Linked DNA regions of Homo sapiens: region 2 is linked to region 1. Evidence: fine-mapped expression QTL. A gene starts in region 1. The other region holds a variant in brackets. All regions are shown on one strand. Distances are from middle to middle. Region 1 holds the start of CYP7A1 (cytochrome P450 family 7 subfamily A member 1). Region 2 has its middle 31 kb from the start of LINC03018.

Region 1 (2,936 bases):
TAAAATTTTTCCCACTGACTTCAAACTTTGAAACCCTATAGTTTATAGATATTTCTTTTGTTGGATGGGCCCTGCTCTTTTACTACAGTAATAGGTTATATTAACCTAGTAACATGATATGTTGGTGGAAAGGATTACTAAATCCATCCATTCATGCATCCGTCCATATACACATTCAACAAGCACCCGTCTACTATGTGCTCATCACTTTTCCCAGTGATACAGGCAAAAGGATTTACAAGACCAACAAGATTCTTGTTGTCAGTGCGGAAACAAAACTACATTCTAGTGTTTATCACTTTGCTAAGCATCATTTTTCTAAATATCTCAAAATGTTTCTTTTGATTATTTTCTTTAAAGACACAGATCACTGAATAAGGGAGGATTTCAGAACTGAGGTTTTGAAAATATTCCTAGTTTAAAGATATCTATATTATATTCTATAAGGATGGTTTCAGAGAAGAAGAATCTCATGTGAGAAATCAGCTTATTATAAAATGAAATTGAGTAAGATAAACACTGACGGAATCATCTATTGTAATTCAGTGCTCCTTTAAAATGTTTTTATTAGAACATGTAAACTTATTTTCCAACATAAACTTCTGTACCTCTTGATAGAATAATACAGTATAAAGTAATTACCTTTCTTTTCTTAGTTTGAAGATAAGTAGTTTAATTAAAAGTAAAAACTATCAGGCCTGAAAGAAACTGCAAAAGGCAGAAAACACATAGCAATCTACAAAGCTGAAAGATGGTTAGGGTTATTTTCTCTTTTTGAGATTGACATAGCAGAGAATATCTATATGCCTCCCCACAATTACTCCTTGAGCCAATTAGAAGTTAAATAAACTATGGTTCTGGATCTGACTGTATTTGTTTTTCTTGCATTCTTGAACCAGTTGTAAATAAATGAAATCGATGTCACATACACTCAGCAAACTTTCCCAATTCACCACAGTTGATTAACATTTATTTAAAAACAGTAATAGAATGATCAGCTCAGGCTCTATGCTCTTGTTCAGGCTTAGGCTGAGTCTATGCGATGCACAAGAATGAGCTTAAAAGAGAACATTTATTTAACAAGAGTATCTATTGAAGCCATGTGAGAGAAAGCAATCCTTTCCATTGTAGATTCCCACTTGCTACTTGTATCCTTACTAATCTGGGCTTCCTCTTTAGATACACATATAAATGTACATAGAGACCTTATACAATTTCTGTCAGTTATGTTTAACACCAATATACATTTATATATTACCATCGGTATATGCCAATACTAAAAAGGGAAGCTGTCATATGTCTTGTGAGATATAGTAAAAAAGATATTACTTTAAAAATTCAAATCAAATTTTTCATTTAAAAAATAAGGAAGATAATGCTAATATGTGTAAGTATAGAAAACCAAATTTACTGTATAAAAATGAAGGTAAAAAAATTAAATGGATGAATCAAAGAGCAATTTAAAGATAAAACATTACTTACCTTCTCCTAATTCCAAGAATAAGCCATAGACAACAGCATGCTGCTATAGCAATCCCCCAAATCAAAGATGTGGTCATCATTTTGCAAATCTAGGCCAAAATCTCTGAGGAAGAAAATCTCTGATTAGAAAGGGAAGGATGCCACTGAAAAGAGACTCAAGCTAGGCTTTTTATATACATAGTATCCAGATCCATTAACTTGAGCTTGGTTGACAAAGCAAACAATTAGCCATTTGTTCATTCTATTAGAAAAAAAAAAGTGGTAGTAACTGGCCTTGAACTAAGTCCACAGGTATCAGAAGTGGTTCCAAAGCAATCAGAGACCTGCAATACTTGATAAGTTGAAGGTCTCTCAAATATATGTTGACTTAACATTCGGACCTGGGGACAACAGCTAATATTAAGAGTTTGGTATGTGTAAAAAGAACAAATAAACCTGTTTAAGATGGGCATAGCTAATAAATACATAAACTATAATCATTTAAAGAAAGATAAGAATGAGTTATTCATCAAGCTTATAATTTGGTCTTGTTAACTTTTAAAGAAGAATTAATTTAGGTGCTTTGCCAGAGAGACGGTGATCAAGTTCAGAGGAAAGAGAACTGGGAAAAACATTTCTGCTGCTTCATGTTTCAGTGCTTTTATAAAATCATAGATATTTTACTACATATAGTAACATGTTACTCACCTAACATCCTCAAGAGAGTATTCTACATAAGTGCATCCTCTAGATAAATATAACTTATTGGAAGCATCAAAATTTTATCTATCATTCTTGTGACTAAAATGTTTATCAATGTTTCTAATTATTAAAGTAATAAATTTCATTTCAAGTAAGTTAAGACTAACTAAAACATATCTTGGTGGAAAGTGAACATCTATTAATAATTTACCTACCATGCTACTCCTTTACTCAGAAGTAACCACTAGTAACAATTTGGCATCTGTTCTTCCAAACTTTATTTCTGTGTACACAAAAATATTAGTTGAGTATTTATTACGTGCCAAGAACTCTTCAAAAGTATTCCAGTTGCAGGCATTAATAAGATAGGCAGATTTCCTAATCTAATGGAGATTCTATTCCAATGGAGAAAGGAGTAATAAAATACATGTTATGAAAAAAATAAAACATGGTATAGAAAGCTATGGGGGAATGAGGACAACTTTAGATATGATGATCAGAGATGGGCTCTCTGAAATTGTGACATTTGAGATCTGAATGACAAGAAGAGACTACTCATGTGAATATCAGAAGGAAGGATATTCCAGGAAGAGGAAGCAGCAAATGCAATGTCTTGAGTCAAGGATCAACTTGGTGAGTCTAAGAACCAAAAAGAAGGATGTATCCTACTGAAGCAGAGTGAATGAGAGTTCACAGAATTAAGACAAAAGAAGGTAGGCAACAGTACTGTGTGTGTATATATATGTATATAAACACACACACACATACACCCA
Region 2 (2,936 bases), 780 kb before region 1:
CATTTTTTTGTGTGTGCCTGGAAGAGTTCCAGATCCTTTGGCCACAAGTCAGCATGGTCCCTACCCCCAGGAAGCCCCAAGCATGGTGGCACCTTAATACGACCCAGGCTGAAAGACAGGGTCAGGAAGGTCCTTAAACACCCATTTCCTAGTACACTTCCTGCTATTTTGTGAATTCCAAAAGAGTGCTGGATAGAGTTCCCATTTTCATATTTACATGAGAGGATAGATGGGTGAGATATTAATAAACAATTCTGGTTTTTATTAAATAGGGAATCCTTTCCCCATCAATAAATGGTGCTGGGAAAACTGGCTAGCCACATGTAGAAAGCTGAAACTGGATCCCTTCCTTATACTTTATACAAAAATTAACTCAAGATGGATTAAAGACTTAAATGTTAGACCTAAAACCATAAAAACCCTAGAAGAAAACTTAGGCAATACCATTCAGGACATAGGCATGGGGAAGGATTTCACGACTAAAACACCAAAAGCAATGGCAACAAAAGCCAAAATTGACAAATGGGATCTAATTAAACTAAAGAGCTTCTGCACAGCAAAAGAAACCACCATCAGAGTGAACAGGCAACCTACAGAATGGGAGAAAATGTTTACAATCTACTCATCTGACAAAGGGCTAATATCCAGAATTTACAAAGAACTTAAACAAATTTACAAGAAAAAATCAAACAACCCCATCAAAAAGTGGGCAAAGGATATAAACAGACACTTCTCAAAAGAAGACATTTATGCAGCCAACAGACACATGAAAAAATGCTCATCATCACTGGCCATCAGAGAAATGCAAATCAAAACCACAATGAGATACCATCTCACACCAGTTAGAATGGTGATCATTAAAAAGTCAGGAAACAACAGGTGCTGGAGAGGATGTGGAGAAATAGGAACACTTTTACACTGTTGGTGGGACTGTAAACCAGCTCAACCATTGTGGAAAACAGTGTGGTGATTCCTCAAGGATCTAGAACTAGAAATACCATTTGATCCAGCCATCCTATTACTGGGTATATACCCAAAGGATTATAAATCATGCTGCTATAAAGACACATGCACACGTATGTTTACTGCAGCATTATTCACAATAGCAAAGTCTTGGAACCAACACAAATGTCCAACAATGATAGACTGGATTAAGAAAATGTGGCACATATACACCATGGAATACTATGCAGCTATAAAAAATGATGAGTTCATGTCCTTTGCAGGGACATGGATGAAGCTGGAAACAATCATTCTCAGCAAACTA[G/T]TGCAAGGACAGAAAACTAAACACTGCATCTCCTCACTCATAGGTGGGAATTGAACAATGAGAACACTTGGACACAGGATCGGGAACATCACACACTGGGGCCTGTCGTGGGGTAGGGGGAGAGGGGAGGGATAGCATTAGGAGATATACCTAATGTAAATGATGAGTTAATGGGTGCAGCACACCAACATAACACATGTATACATATGTAACAAACCTGCACGTTGTGCACTTGTACCCTAGAACTTAAAGTATAATAATAATAATAATAATAAAGAATTCTGTTTTTTAGAACTTGACACCTAGGAAAACTCTATTGCTTTGTTCTCAGTGAGCCAATTTATGGAGCAAATAAACTCAGATATATTAGACTTTGGTAAGCAAAAGGTATGTGACCAAAAACATTTTTATTTGTTTATTTAGTCATTTATTCACTGGTCACTTATCTAACAAATATCTGTGGAGCAGCCATGTTTGCCTCTGGAAACCCCTCCATTGGCTTAAATAACATTCTCTTGTTCTTCCTTTACCTCTTTCTGTCCCTTCTTTTGATGGCCTTTCTTGGTGCATCCCTTAAATGCAGACACTCCCAACTGACCAGTCCTGTACACACGTGCCTCTCTTGACAGTCTCCATTGGGAATCTCATTAACTCTAAAGATTCTGCTGATCAATAAATGACTCCCACAACCATATGTCTAAGCCTGGCCCCTCTCCAATATTCAAGCCCCTCATTTCCAGTTTACAGCAGACACTTCCATCTGGAGATGTTGGTAGTTCAATCTCGATGTGTTGCAAATAATCACCTTTTTAAAAAACTTTCAAACGGTTCTTCCTGCTATGCTTCTGTTTGTGTTGAAGACATTTATCTGAGCTGATAATCAACTCCTGTCACTTCCATGCTCCCCACATCCAACCCACTGGAGAGTTCCAACTATTCTTACTTGGAGAAATACTTTTCCTCTACTCTGTCTTTTTGTCATCAATGGCATGATTGTGTTTCAGATCTCTTTATTTCTTCCCAGGGTTGGAGCAGTGACCTTCCAGCTGGCCTCTACTCTTCTCTCCTGGCCATCCATGTTATCCATGGCCTCTAGATTAATCTTTCTGAAGTACATATCTTGATGAGGATTCCCCAGTGAAAGTCTCTAATATTTTTTCTTTCCCAAAGGGCTTAAGTACATCTCCCCTAAACTCACGTGCTGAAGTCCTAACCCCCAGTGTCTCTGAATGTGACTGTTTTGGAGACAGGGCCTTTATAAAGGTAACTAAGGTTAAATGAAATAATTAGGATGGGTCCTAATCCAACATGACTGGTGTCCTTATAAGAAGGAGATTAGGACACAGACAAGCACAGAAGAAAGCTCATGTGAAGCACAAGGAGAAGATGGTCATTTGCAAGCCAAAGAGAGAGGCCTCAGGAAAAACCAAAGCTGCTGACATCTTGATCTTGAACTTGAACTGGAGTAATCACTCAAATCAGTCTCTCCAAAGTCTCAGAGGCTGGGGTTTTTATAGACAGTTTGGTGGGCAGGGGGCCAGGGAATTGGTACTGCTGACTGGTTGAGAATGAAATCATAGTGGTGTGGAAAACAGTCCTGGTGCACTGAGTTTGCCTCTGGGTGGGGCCACAGGACCAGCTGAGTCATGAGTCACGAGTCCAGGTGGGG

The links. PIP is the estimated chance that this variant, and not a neighbour inherited with it, causes the effect. A credible set is the group of variants that fine-mapping cannot tell apart.
Region 2: its variant is the best candidate, but not a certain one, in a credible set for the expression of CYP7A1 in spleen (GTEx, PIP 0.74).

The regions. Positions count from the first base shown.
Region 1 is chr8:58,498,537-58,501,472 of GRCh38, forward strand. CYP7A1 (cytochrome P450 family 7 subfamily A member 1) reads right to left here and starts at 1,627. Exons shown (of 6, transcript NM_000780.4): 1 at 1,483-1,627. The coding sequence starts at 1,562. RefSeq lists a silencer at 1-1,505, a promoter at 1,603-2,936 and an enhancer at 1,837-2,058.
Region 2 is chr8:57,713,874-57,716,809 of GRCh38, forward strand. No RefSeq gene overlaps it. Among named protein-coding and RNA genes, the nearest start is that of LINC03018, 31 kb to the right of the region's middle. The variant G/T (reference allele first, on the strand shown) is at 1,268.